Linked DNA regions of Homo sapiens. The protein of the gene in region 1 interacts with the protein of each later gene in a pairwise test. Each region holds a gene or a part of one and is shown in the gene's direction. Other genes may lie near its edges.

The links. The genes of interacting proteins can lie anywhere in the genome.
Region 2: the proteins of PEX6 (region 1) and ATF7IP interact in a two-hybrid assay, tested with the Homo sapiens proteins (one large-scale study listed by IntAct).
Region 3: the proteins of PEX6 (region 1) and ACOX3 come close enough for resonance energy transfer, tested with the Homo sapiens proteins (one large-scale study listed by BioGRID).

What each region holds. Positions count from the first base shown.
Region 1 is NC_000006.12:42,969,143-42,974,552, reverse strand, and holds part of PEX6 (peroxisome biogenesis factor 6), read left to right. Parts: intron 1-466; coding exon 467-550; intron 551-4,565; coding exon 4,566-4,668; intron 4,669-4,751; coding exon 4,752-4,885; intron 4,886-5,410. UniProt on the Homo sapiens protein: Component of the PEX1-PEX6 AAA ATPase complex, a protein dislocase complex that mediates the ATP-dependent extraction of the PEX5 receptor from peroxisomal membranes, an essential step for PEX5 recycling.
Region 2 is NC_000012.12:14,493,727-14,498,181, forward strand, and holds part of ATF7IP (activating transcription factor 7-interacting protein 1), read left to right. Parts: intron 1-2,504; coding exon 2,505-2,617; intron 2,618-3,927; coding exon 3,928-4,347; 3' UTR 4,348-4,455. UniProt on the Homo sapiens protein: Recruiter that couples transcriptional factors to general transcription apparatus and thereby modulates transcription regulation and chromatin formation. Can both act as an activator or a repressor depending on the context.
Region 3 is NC_000004.12:8,367,724-8,372,178, reverse strand, and holds part of ACOX3 (peroxisomal acyl-coenzyme A oxidase 3), read left to right. Parts: intron 1-1,184; coding exon 1,185-1,271; intron 1,272-4,455. UniProt on the Homo sapiens protein: Oxidizes the CoA-esters of 2-methyl-branched fatty acids.

The sequences.
Region 1 (5,410 bases):
CCGGGAGGTGGAGCTTGCAGTGAGCCGAGATCGCACCACTGCACTCTAGCCTGGGCGACAGAGCGAGACTCCGTCTCAAAAAAAAAAAAAAAAAAAAAAAACAAAAAAAACATTTCAGACAGATTGTGGTAGGCGCCTCTTGGTATATCAGGGAGACCACAGAAGAGAAATCTGAACCATGAGGTTAATTTGGACATTCCAAACAGAGACACCTGTGATTAAAGAGGGCTCCAAAAGAGCCAGGATCCTGCTCTGCCACTCATCTGTCTCTGATCCCCCTTTCTAGTCTCTCCACCATTTCCCCTAGCTCATCCTAAGACTGACTTGTTCCTTGGAGAACTGCGTGGGATCTCTGGGCGGGCAGTAGACTCAAGAAGTAGTCTGCATGTCGGGGGTGGACATGTGGTAATGAACACATGCTCATTACTCCCATTGTGACCTGACCAGGGCCACTGCTGTGTTGCAGGGTAGTCCAGGAAGGGGATGTTCTATGTGTGCCAACAATTGGGCAAGTAGAGATCCTGGAAGGAAGTCCAGAGAAACTGCCCAGGTATGCAGCTGCCTTCTGTCCTACAGCTGGGATTTGTAACCTGGGTGCATGAGTTCTACAATCCCCTCCCTGCAAATCATGTGTAATTTGTGCCCAAGAGGATTTCGTTGTCATGTATTTTGTGTGTGCGTGTGTGTGTGTAACAGGTTCTTGCTCTGTTACCCAGGCTGGAGTTTAGTGGTGCAAACACAGCTCACTGCAGCCTCTACCTCCATGGCTCAAGTGATCCTCCCACCTCAGCACTGCCTCTGCCCCAGTAGCTGGGACTACAGGTTCGCATCACCACGCCCAGCTATTGGTTTTTGTATTTTTAGTAGAGATAGGGTTTCGCCATGTTGACCAGGCTGGGCTCGAACTCTTGAGCTCAAGTGATCTGCCTGCCTTGGCCTCCCAAAGTGCTGAGATTACAGGTGTGCACCACTCACCCCCAGCCTGTGTACATTTTTTTGGAGAGAAAATTCACCTGTCCTTCAGTTCCCAAACAAGTGTATGACTGAAGAAAGGTTAAGAACCAGTCAGGCATGGTAGTGCATACTTATAATCCCAGCTACTCAGGAGGCTGGGCAATATAGCTAGACACTGTCTCAAAAAACAAGCAAACTAAAAGAACCACTCCCTGCTGGCTTTGGGAGGTGTTTATCCTCAAACTGACTGGTGGCCCTATGTAAAGCAAAGCACTAAGAAGAGTTTAGGCCAGGTGTGGTGGCTCACGACTGTAATCCCAGCACTTTGGGAGGCTGAGGCAGGCAGATCACTTGAGGTCAGGAATTCAAGACCAGCCTGGCCAATATGGTGAAACCCTGTCTCTACTAAAAATACAAAAATTAGCCGGGTGTGATGGTGGGCATCTGTAATCCCAGCTACTCAGGAGGCTGAGGCGGGAGAATCACTTGGACCTGGGAGGCAGAGGTTGCAGTGAGCCCAGATCGCATCACTGCTCTCCAGCCTGGGTGACACAGCAAGACTCCATCTCAAAAAATAAATAAATAGGTAAAATTTAAATTCTTTTCTTTTTAAAGAAGAGTTTAATGGCCTAGACCAAGACGGGATTCCTTCCTTTCCGTTCTTAGCCTTCGTGTTATTTGGACCAAGACTTGGGCCATACCATCCATATCTCAACGTAAGGATATACAGGCTCTGATTTCTGCCTTAACTACGGAGTGTGCACAAACTACTTCTCAATCCTATCTCTGAAAACAGGAGAGGGATTTCTCTTTTTTTTTTTTTTTTTTTGAGACAGAGTCTTGCTTTGTTGCCCAGGCTGGAGTGCAGTGGCGCAATCTTGGCTCACTGCAAGCTCCGCCTCCCGGGTTCATGCCATTCTCCTGCCTCAGCCTCCCAAGTAGCTGGGACTACAGGTGCCCACCACCACGCCCGGCTAATTTTTTGTATTTTTAGTAGAGATTGGGTTTCACCGTGTTAACCAGGATGGTCTCGATCTCCTGACCTTGTGATCCGCCCGCCTCGGCCTCCCAAAGTGCTGGGATTACAGGCGTGAGCCACCGCACCCAGCCAGGGATTTCTATTGTTTTTGAGAGGGCTACCCTGTCCTATCAACAGAGAATGAGAAATAGAGCATAACCGAGCCAAGAACCCAAAATAAGGAATCCAGCTTTTCTCCTCTTGTTGACTCTGACCACAGAGGTTCCATGTAAAATGGTGAGGCAAAGAATTGAGACACTGCTTTAGCCTTATGTGTAGGGAGGAAAATGTATAGCTCTGTATCCCAGCATTCCCTGTATTCTGGACTCATTTCCTGCAGCAGTTTACTAGAAGGAGAGCACAGCTGATAGATGCACTAACTCATACATAAGAGCCTTCATGTCCAAGGTCTGTGGCATAGCCAGCCTGGGTCCTCTGCCAGGAGAGACAGTCCTTGTTTGGAGTGCCTGATGTTCATCCCTGGTCAATATCCAGTGCTTGGTTCTGGCCAGTGCTCAGTACCCCCAGTCTCAGGGTGGTGGTGCTCTGTGGAACCCCATTTAGGCTCCATGTCACCTCTTCGAGGTTTTCCAGATTAAGTCCACGAGTCTGGTGGAAAATGCCAGGCTGGCACTTAGCAGTCACTTCCCACCTCTCTCTCCTATCATAAATTTAGCAAACGTCTTTGAGCTAGCTTTCAGTAGGAAAACTACAGAATGCCCACTCTTTGTACTTTCAAAGGAAAATAGGCACTAGAACCTCATGAGACAGGCTGGCAAGCCAGTTCTGTTCCTGAACTTCTATTGTCTCAACTCTGTAGAACCCTGCTTTCCTCCTGAGTGCCGAGCACATAGTTCTTTTCCCCGCAAGGAAAGCAGGGTTGGAGTAAGTGGCCCAATGGGTCCAAGGACAGATACAGATGAGCGTTTTAAGCTGCACTGGGCTTGAGAAGGGAAGCCCTGCAGAAGTTCCTGTGAGCCCTGGAAAGGAATTCCACTGTTGGTGTAGCCTCTTCATCCTGTCCCTGGTGCTCCACTTCCCCAAACCAGGCTGCATGGGAGCCAGCTCCACTATCACCTATCTGGCTGGCTGGAGCACAGCTCAGTGTTCCTTAGCAGTGTCCACATAGGTTCCAGAGCTCTGGCCTTTCTATTCACTGAGGTGGTCCAACCACCCTCCACTGAAGAAGGTGGTCTCTCCCTATGCCACAGTGCTGTCCCCCATCTCATTCCTATGCAGGGCTTCCATGGTGAGTCATACACACCATGACTCAGCTGTTGAGCTTGATCGAGATCCTAGGTTAGAGGCCCACTGTCACCTATTTATAATTAATTATAGGCAGATTCAGGCTTCCTGATGTTCCAGGTTTACTGTAGTACTTAGAAGAGTTTCATAATACTAACCTGGTATGCTTCCCCTCCACCTTGCTGCACTCTCACACCCCTTTGCTGCTAGAGAGAGCAGCTTTGAGACTGTGGGGCAGTGTGAGCAGAGGAATTTGCAGCCTGATTGGACCTTAAAGAGGACTAGGTTATAGCCTGACTCTGTCATTGCCTTGCTGCCTGAGGATTAAAGAGGGAAGTAGTTCATGATTTCTTTATCTGGAAAATTGGGTTAGTAGCTGTTCCTGCTACCCATCCTATTCCCCGTTAGTAGGTTGAATAACCCTAACTCACTATGACACTCGCCAACTACTGCGCAGCCCTGGTTATGCATCAGAATTGCTGGGGAAGCTTTCAAAAAATACAGGTGCCTAAGCCCCACCCCAGATCTATTGGGGCAGAATCAGGGTGAGACTGGAGCCTGTGCTTTTTTTCCTTCACAAAGGAAGGAGAAAGGTTAATTTTAAAAACATAAAATTCACACACCATAAAACCATACTTTTAAAGTATACAATTCAATTTTTTTATTCATAAGGTTGTACAGCCAACATCACTGTTTCATTCCAGAACATTTTCAACATCTCAAAAAGAAACTCTGCACCCATTAGCAGTCATTCCCTGTAGCTTCCCTCATAGGCAATGGCAACTGCTGATCTGCTGAATAGAATCATATAATATGTGAGAAATGTTTAGTTTTTAAAGTTACACAGATAATTCCAATGTGCAGCCAGAATACAGAACCATTATTCATCAGATGGCATTATTAAGGACTCCGCCTGCAATGAGATTTTGTGGATTATTGAGTAAGAGCCAAGGGACCCTTCCCCCTAGGGTTTTTGGGGCCTGGATGGCTGTGTATTTGAGGGGGAGACCGAAGCCAGTAGAAGTAATCAGATGATCCACTGCTTAGTGCAGCAGCAGCTTCTCCCATTGGTGTGGGTGGGTAGGCCACATGCCTGGAGAAACACACCCCCTCAGAGCTCTCATGGCTGTCATGGGGGATGCAGAGGGACAGGCATAGCTCTTGCCCTCAAGGTGTGTATGGTCTGTCAGGAAGATGAGAAAGTCCATCTGCATTCCTTTTCCCCACCATGACTCGGGACACGCTCTTGTGGTGCTTTTGTTTGTCCTCTGTGATTGAGAAACCTTGTCCTTGAGGAGGGGGGTTTTTGGACTCTGGATCTGGGGTTCATTGGGCCTTTTTCCTGCAGGTGGCGGGAAATGTTTTTTAAAGTGAAGAAAACAGTTGGGGAAGCTCCAGATGGACCAGCCAGTGCCTACTTGGCCGACACCACCCATACCTCCTTGTACATGGTGAGGCCCCAAGGATGGGTGTAGACCAGCGCAGGGGGTAGAAACGATTTTTAGAAACGAAAGCTTTTTATTACCTTTCACAGGTGGGTTCTACCCTGAGCCCTGTTCCATGGCTCCCTTCAGAGGAATCCACTCTCTGGAGCAGTTTGTCTCCTCCAGGCCTGGAGGCCTTGGTGTCTGAACTCTGTGCTGTCCTGAAGCCTCGCCTCCAGCCAGGGTGAGTGAGGTCATCACCCCAGGGTGTGAGAAAAGCCTGCTTAGAACATCCCTGGAGGAGCAGCAGCCAGATGGGTAGTTCCTAATGAACTGGCCAGAGTGGGATTGGGAGGACCTTCCTCAAACCAGTATGTCCTACACAAGGCCACCAGGCCACTCCTTTCTGTAAGCCAATTCCCAGGCTCCTTTCCTGGGATAACCTCTGTCCTCCAGGGCTGGCTCTGGAGGAAGAATCTCCAGCAGGGGCATCTGTTTCTGAGACTGCCCTTCCCCTTGGGGAGCTCACTGGCCATCCTGCACTTTACTGCCCTGGCCCTGAAGGACACAACTCCTCATACCAGTGGCCCAGGTGTGGACGCAGATCCCCACCTCAGTGCCACCACAATGTCTCTCAATACCATTCAGACCAGTCATAACGTTGAGGTTTTATTGGCAGCACAGCAATGCCAAAGGGAATTAATTAGTCTTTGGCTGTTGGATATGCTGGATGCCCCGGCCAGAGCACCGCAGGTGGTGTGGGAGACAC
Region 2 (4,455 bases), on another chromosome or scaffold:
AGGCTGTGCATGTATCTTTCATTGCAGGTCAGACACTCGCATGATAAGAGCTTGTGTCTGTTTTTCCACAACTTCAGCGCTCTCTCTACAGGAGATAAGACTCTCATTCAGGGCAATCTTAGCAGTTTTGAGCCTCAGTATCTTCTTCTGAGGCTGAGAGACAGAATCCTTGAGTTCATCATTTTCTTTCATCACTTTTTCCACTGCACTTAGGAGCAACTGACCAGCTTCATTATGTTCCTTGGTTCTCCACATATGGTCCAAGGTATTATGTATAGAGTCACTAAACTCCTTGCTTCCCACAAGCAGTGAATCAGGAGTGTCAAATGCATTTATTTTGCATAACCCTCTAAACAGTTCACACCAGGGACTATCAGTGTTCTCTATACTATTAGAATTAGAGTTTTTAACATTTTTGGGTCTAATCACATTAAGCAGCCAACTCCAGAAACCCCAAAACCAATGAAAGAACTCCATCCTTAATATTCTGTTCCTCTGGACCCCATTCCTGGTACCAAAATCTGAATTAGGGTTCTCTAGGGGGACAGAGCTAATAGAATATATATATATATATATATATATATATATATATATATATATATATATATGTGTGTGTGTATATGTATATATACACATATGTTTCCTATATATAGTATTCATATAATATATACTATATATAAACTAATAGGATATATATATTTTATATATTATATATGTATTAAACTAATAGGGTATATACATAAAATATATACTACATATAAACTAATTGTATATATACTTTATATCCTACTATATATATACAGTATATCTTAATTATATATAAATATTAAATATATGTAAAATACTTTATATATAGTGAATGTTTATATATATAAAGGGGAGTTTATTAAGTATTAATTTACATAATCAGAAGTTCCCACAATAGACTGGGCATGGTAGCTCACGCCTGTAATCCCAGCAGTATGGGAGGCCAAGGCAGGCAGATCACTTGAGGTCAGGAGTTCGAGATGAGCCTGGCCAACATCGTGAAACCTCATCCCTACCAAAAATACAAAAATTGGCTGGGTGTGGTGGCACAAGCCTGTAATCTCACCTACTTGGGAGGCTGAGGCAGGAGAATCTCTTGAGCCCAGGAGGCGGAGGTTGCAGTGAGCCGAGATCATGCCACTGCACTCCAGCCTGGGCAACAGAGCCAGACTCTGTCTCAAAAAAAAAAAAAAAAAAAAAAAGATCCCACAGTAGGCTGTCTGCAAGCTGAGGAGCAAGGAAGCCAGTCTGAGTCCCAAAACTGAAGAACTTGGAGGCCAATGTTCCAGGGCAGGAAGCATCCAGCACAGGAAAAAGATGTAGGCTGGGAGGCTAAGGCTAAGCCTGTCTCTCCTTTTCACGTTTTTCTGCCTGCTTTATATTTTCTGGCAGCTGATTAGATTGTGCCCACCAGATGAAGGGTGGATCTGCCTTCCCCAGTCCACTGACTCAAATGTTAATCTCTTTTGGCAACATCCTCACAGGCCCACCCAGGGTTAATACTTTGTGTCCTTCAATCTAATCAAGTTGACACTCAGTATTAACCATCACACATATGTTGTAGTTTTGCAAAATGTGACAGCAAGGGAAAATATAGCTATTTAAAGAAACACAGTAATGCTATCATTTAGAAAATAAACTGATTGGAGTCCCTGGATCATAGCTTGGCTTCAACTCTCTCAAGTTTACAAGAGCGTTGTCTGGGAAAATTAATCAACAAGGTTAGAAATGAGTTCTGGGAAACTTGGCTCACTATAGTCCAGGAACCAGGCCGAACTACAGCATGGGCCAGGTACTGAATAAATGGCAGGAATATAGTTAGGGCAGTAGGTGGCTCTAAATTTTCTCTTTTTGTTTCCCTGGTGTATGTCACAGCAGTTTTCTGTGGGGTGAAGTGAGTATCCTCAACCAAGGAGCTGGGCATGGAGAAAATGAGAGGAACCTCATTAATACATGGCAAGGATGACTTATTCTGGCTTTCTGTCCTGGTTGAAAAGATGAGACTGCAGAGATTTTTATGAAGATACTCCCAGTTTGTCTGTCTTTTGAGTCACACTGCTCCATTATGGCCATTTACCTTTTACATGTGGTACACAACCAGTGTTCTAGGATTTTTGTTCATAGTTCTCCTGGTAACGATCCATTTATTTCTCCCTGTGCTGGACCTCCTGTTGCTTGTGTCTCGTGTTTTTCTCTTTATTTTCTCACGTACTGGTGGCACATATTCTCCATTGACTATTTGAGAAAGGGTTTGTGGTAGTTAGAATTTTTTTTTAGTGCTTGCATGTAAGAAAGTTTTTTTATCCACAGGCTGATTGATAGCTTGGCTGAATACGAACAGGACCTCTAGGTTAGAAATATCTTTCCTTTCGAATCTTGAAAACATTGCTTCACTGCCTTCAAATATTTAATCAGTTTTCCACCAAATTTACAATAGAATTATCATTTTATCCTGTAATTTTTTTGTTTGTTTGTAGGTGTTACAGTTCGAGTGCCTCAAACAACCACATATGTTGTAAACAATGGACTAACCCTGGGATCAACAGGACCTCAGCTCACAGTGCATCACCGACCACCACAAGTGCATACTGTAAGTGTTGATGCTTGGTTTTGCAAAATTCTCAACTGTAGAGGTATAAAATATTATTGTATTTGGCATTTTTCTTTAAAATGGTTATATCCAAGGGAAGTGTTAGGTCTTCCTGCTTTTTCAGAAGTTTATTTCTAAAAATTGATCTTACCATTATGAACACATAGTTCCTAGGGATGATGATCATTTAGAATCATTGAGTTTGCTTGTGGTGTACAGTGTACAAAAACAGGTCCACAGTTGGGGTATATGAAGTGAAATATAGACCATTTCTAATTCATAGTTAAATTAAAAAGGACATTTTTCATTTCTCCATGTGTTAATTTTATTCTTTCGTTCTAAACTATGCCACATCTAACTGCTACATTGTCATCAATTAATTGTTCTAAAGAATCCAATGATATTGGGAATTCATTAGTTAAGAGGTAACAGAGATAACCAAAGATTTCTCCTTAGATTTAGCCTCCAAAACAATGTCACATTATCCTGTGACACAATTTTGTCAGTGTTTGACTGGTATGAAATATCATTATAATGATGATGATGTTCCAGTGTTAGAAAAGTCAATAGGACTTCCTAAAGTTAGAGTCATGTTTTTTCATCATCTGGCCTTAACCTACCTTTCCAGATTTTTCTTCATGTACCCTATGTCCAAGAAAAAGTTAATACTTGTTCTTGTCCATACGTCCCCTCACTTTACTGTCCACATGCCTTTGCTCATGCTTTATTTTTGGCTGAAAGGTACATGATTATTTCTGCATCTCTGGATCCTCCTTCACAGTTGAGTTTAAATATCACCTTTTTCTTGTAAATTGGCCAAGAATATAGTACACATTTAGTGTTAATGTGCTTATTTATAAATAACTTAAAAATGAAAGTATATTTGTATTCTCCAATTTTATATGATCTTGGTTGCCATACATGATATTTAAAAATGTTACATCATACTGAAATGATAATCTGTAACATAGATAATTCAATCATAAATTATTTTGTTAGAAATAGATCATTACTTCCGTGTTCCTCAAAATGATGTTCCGTCAGCAGGGGCTTTTTATTTCCTAAGAAAAACTCAAAATATTTTAGGTCTAGGAAGTATAGTAGGAATAACCTCAGCATCATTGTTTGTAGCATGATTCATTACAAAACCCCAAATAGAACTTGCCAAATTTGATATGGTATTTGGTATTTCCTAGAATTCTTGATATAAAATGATACTTCTACGTATGTTCTCTAAGGTGTTTTAATTCTAACATTCTAAAATAGTTCTTTTTGCAATCATCATTAATCAGTGTGACCTGTTTCTTCAGGAGCCCCCACGCCCCGTGCACCCAGCACCCTTACCAGAAGCTCCACAACCACAGCGTCTGCCCCCAGAAGCTGCCAGCACATCTCTGCCTCAGAAGCCACACTTGAAGTTAGCACGCGTTCAGAGTCAAAATGGCATAGTACTGTCATGGAGTGTCCTGGAGGTGGATCGAAGCTGTGCCACTGTTGATAGCTACCATCTCTATGCTTACCATGAGGAACCCAGTGCCACTGTGCCCTCACAATGGAAAAAGATTGGGGAAGTCAAGGCACTTCCCTTGCCCATGGCATGTACTCTCACCCAGTTTGTATCTGGTAGCAAATACTACTTTGCAGTACGAGCCAAGGATATTTATGGACGTTTTGGGCCTTTCTGTGATCCTCAGTCAACAGATGTGATCTCTTCTACCCAGAGCAGTTAAACCTTGGAGCCTTTATATTTTCCTCTTTTAAAATTTCCACCTTTTGGTCTTGTTTTTAATCTTGTGCATGATACCCCATGTAAAATCCACCTTGTGCAAGATTTCTTG
Region 3 (4,455 bases), on another chromosome or scaffold:
CTGCAGTGAGCCGTAATTGCACCATCACACTCCAGCCTGGACAACAGAGCAAGACCCCGTCTCAAAAAAATGACAGCCACAACTGATTTCCCAGTGAGGCTATGGCCAAGGCTGGATGACCGTTGTGTGCCACTCTGTGTGTGCCCATCCATACCACTGTCTTGGGGAGGCCAAGGTCAGCCAGGTGGAGAAGTTGCCAGCCATCCACTAGACCAGGGCCAGCAAACTCAGTCCAATCCTGCCGTTCACCTGAGTGTCGTCTGTGGGTGCCTTTGTGCTTCCACGGCACAGTAGGCAGTTGCCAGAGACCGTGGCCCGCAAAGCCGGTAACATCTCCCACCTGGACCCTTACGGAACACGTTTGTCGGGCTCAGCGCCTGTGCTCTGCCGAGAGCTTCTCTCCGGGAGCAGTGGCATTTGTCTGCGGCCTCTGTGCTGAGGCACGTGGACCAGGACCAGGTGGCCACGCCCTGCAGAGCGCGGCGCTGAAGCGCAGAGGTGCACTCAGTTCCTCCATTGTGGCCTTTCTTACTCTGTACTGACTGATTGCCTTTGATCCATATCATTAGCGGTGTCTCCCATTCCTGGGTTCTATGCAGTGTAGCCACGGCATTTCATCATATTTTAAGGATAATTTTTGTTTTGCATCTTAAGAAAATTCTTGAGAGTCCACTCATATAAATTTCATGTGTCATATTGAAGAATAATTTGTCCAGTGGAATGGGAGAGTAATAAAACCACCGCCAACCGAGGAGGCTTCATATGCTTATGGCTTTTCCAAGTGCTCATAAATGCCTTCTCTATTACATGTTTTCTGAACATATTTTCCTTTACTGGAACAGCAGTTGCCCAGATAAGCCAAGGCTTAGAAACGAGCCTCTGAATGCAGTTGCTAATTCACGAGCTTCAGGGTCGTCACTTTTAAGGGCCTTTTCTACCTTGTTGGGAAGAAACAAGCCCTAGAAGTCCTGAGTGAAAAGCAGCATGGTGAGAACATTCCAGTGCACAGCAAGGGCCTCGAATCCAGGCCGGTGAAGAGATCACGCATGGGCAGCAGAGCCGCACGTGCCGCTCAGGTGACCCGTTGCTAGTGGGTCCTGGCAACCACACACGGGGCTGTTATGCTTTGGTCACCATGGAAATTCCCGGGAGGTGCCAAGTGTCTGGGCTTTGTTTTCCAACAGCTGAAAGACGATGCAGTTGCCCTGGTAGACGTGATCGCTCCTCCTGACTTTGTTCTGGACTCACCGATTGGCAGAGCCGACGGCGAGGTAAAGGGAGGACAGGGCCTCACGGGAGTGCCCCAAGGGTTGATGGGCATTTCTGCGGAGCTGAGATGCTCCTGTGGGTCAGGGGTCTGGTGTCTTCTGGAAAGTGGTCACACATGGAGGAGCTTCTTGGGGAGGGCCCGGGACAAGTCAGGACTGTCTCACTCTGGTGCTTCCCCATGCTGGCTCTGTGGTTGCAGGGGACTTGCCCATCCCCTGCCTGCCTTTTCCTCCCGAGATGGGGTGGTGGCACTGCCCGCCTGCACAGGCAGAGGTTGGAGGTCCACACACTGTGACCTCTGCCCTCCTCCCACTCCCCCCGGCCTCCCCGGTCCCAGGTCTTACCCCCATCTGACCATGCTCCTGGCCCTGCAGGCCTCTTCCCCCATCCCTGTCCTGGAATCCCCAGGCCCCTCTGTCCCCTCTGACCATCCATGGTTGTCACCGGGGTTACTCTCCCCTGCCCCGCTTTCCCCCAACCGCCTCCCTGTGGCTCCTCAGCTCTCCTCCTGCCCCCCATGTTCCATAATGATTCCTTCATAGCAGATGGGGTCAGGCCGCCCCCCTGAGGGAGCCTCCACCAGCCTCCTCGACTGCCTGCCACGCCCCAGCCCCACACAGCCACTGAATCCTTCCAAGGCCCTTCACCCCACGCTCCCCTCCTGCCCACCAGATCTAGCCTTACTGGCCTCCCCGTCTGTCGCGCCAGGCCCATGCCCACCCCAGGGCCTTGTGCCTGCTGCTCGGGCTGCCTGGAGTGCCTTCCATTCTTTCAGTATAAGCTGACTATTGCTGCCTTGGAGAGGCCTTCTCTGGCCTCCAGCTGAGGCAGTGCCCCCAGGCACTGTAGTGCTGCCCTTGCTGGCCTCATCACTGACCTTGTGTCTCCCTCCCACCTGATGATGCCCTCGAGGAGCGATGCTCACAGGTCCACTGGGTGCCTTCCAGCACCCCACTGCTTATGGGGCTGTGTCTGTCTTCTGCTAGAGGGACTCGGCGTGTCAATGCTCATGTCCCATGCCTGAGGTCCCCTGGCTGTGAGTCACAGAGGGGTTTGACCCCATCCCTGCCCCCTGGCCCCGCAACTGAGTTATTTCTGCTGAAGCACCTGCTGAAGCACCTGGGTCTCTGCCCAAATGGAGATTGAGCCTTAGTGGGCAGGACCCTCCCTCAGTCCTCAGGGAATGCTGAAGTCTGTACATGAGCCCTTACCGGCTTAGCCAGGGAGGGCCCAGCGCCTGGCCTCAGCGCGGCCCAGGCTACACCTGGGTTGGGCTAGGTGTGCCAAGAGGCAGGTAGTGCCAGGAGCCGGGTGGGCAGGGCAGGAGGTGAGAGTTCCCCGTAGTAGGAGAGGCAGGGATGGTCATCTCTGCAGAGGGCCTGCTGTCCTGCATCGGGGACTGACCACTGACCATCCCCAGAGCCCATACAGCCCAGATGATGACTGCCGCTGAGAGCTGAGAGCCAGAGAAGCCCAGTGGGTTTCCCAGCCAGGGAGTGGCAGAGCCAGGATTTGAAGAGACTGTGCCCTGCTGTAGGGAGAGAAGACTTGGCGGGAGCCTTGGGTCCTGGGGGAGCGCATAGGAGAGGGACTTGCCCTACCCACCTTCCTGGGAGAGGCAGTCTCCCCAGGAGGTGGGGGCTCACCAGGCAGACAGGCATTCGAAGGGACACTGGAGCCAGACCCGCCATGGAGGACCCCCAAGCACACGGGACTGTCTGCCCCGTGCAGGAGAAGCCGGAGCGGCCTTGAGCGTCTACCTGCTGTGCCTTGCTCTGCAGAGGCAGGCCCGTCTCTGAGGCAGGGAACGACCAAGGAAAGGAGAGACCTTGCCCATGATGGAGGGGCCCCCTGGCTCTGGGTTCCATAGTTAAAACCAGAGCCAGCTGGAGGTGTCGCTGGCAGGATGGTTTATTAAACGTGCATTCCTGGCTGAGCATGGTGGCTCACACCTGTTATCCTAGCACTTTGGAAGGCTGAGGCGGGCGGATCCCTTTAGCCCAGGAGTTTGAGACCAGCCTAGGCAACATACTGAAACCCCATCCATAAAAATTACAAAAACTGAGGTGAGAGGATCCCCTGAGCTTGGGGAGGTCGAGGCTGTGGTGGGCAGTGATCGCGCCACTGCACTCCAGCCTGGCCAACAGGGTGAGACCTCATCTCAAAAAAAAAAAAAAAAGTGCATTCCTTCCAGTTGCAAGGAACTGGTGTATTAACCAGGAGCTGCCAGGTGAGAAATTCACTATAAGCGAACAAACAGAGCTGCAGGGGAGTTGAGACCATCCTTAAATCAAGCCCGCTGCTCCAAACTGTGAAACATAAGCTGGAACCTAGGCCCTGTGGAGCAGCAGCCTGGGTCTGTGTCTGTGGAGCCCAGAGTAGCAGAGTGGGGAGGAGGGGTTGCTAAGTGCATTTAGCGGGTGCAGGCAGAGGGGTTTCTTCTCAATAAAATGGGTCAGCGTAAGCTGGATACACAATAGACCACCTCCCCAGGCCCTGGAGATGGTCTGGGCTGCCCCTTTCCACCCTGCACGGGTGAAGTGTCTGCTCAGCTGCCCTTCGCCCTTCATTTGTACAACCTTCCTCCAAGACAGGAGCGTCTCTCCCCATCTTCCCAGTGAGGCCACTTAGGCTGAGAGCAGTGAAGTCTGCACCTCCCGTAGGGGAGTGCTGGCCCGGGGCAGGACCAGAGGAGCAGGGTGTGGTGGCCCAGGTCCAGAAATCAGCCAGTAAGGGCCACTCGGCGAGGGCATCCTGCTGCTGGTGGCCACGTGCCACCTGTGCGGCCTGTAGCGGCCTGGGGTGTGAGAGCAGATTTCAGAGCAGCAGTCGATGCAGCCTTGCAGCATCCTGCGGTGGCTGCAGTTACTAAGAAACAGCGTGTCCACTGCCACGATCAGTTCTTTTTTTTTTTTTTTGAGATAGGATCTCACTCTGTCACCCAGGCTGGGGTGCAGTGGCATAATCTCGGCCCACTGCAGCCTCAACCTCCTGGGCTCAAGTGATCCTCCCACCTCAGCCTCCCAAGTAGCTAGAACTACAGGTGAACTCCTCCATGCCCAGTTAATTTTTTGCTTTTTTTTTTTTTTTTTTTTTTTTTTTTGTAAAGATGGGGTTTCGCCGTGTTGCCCAGGCTGGTCTCAAGCTCCTGAGCTCCAGTGATCTGCCTTCCTCAGCCTCCCAGAG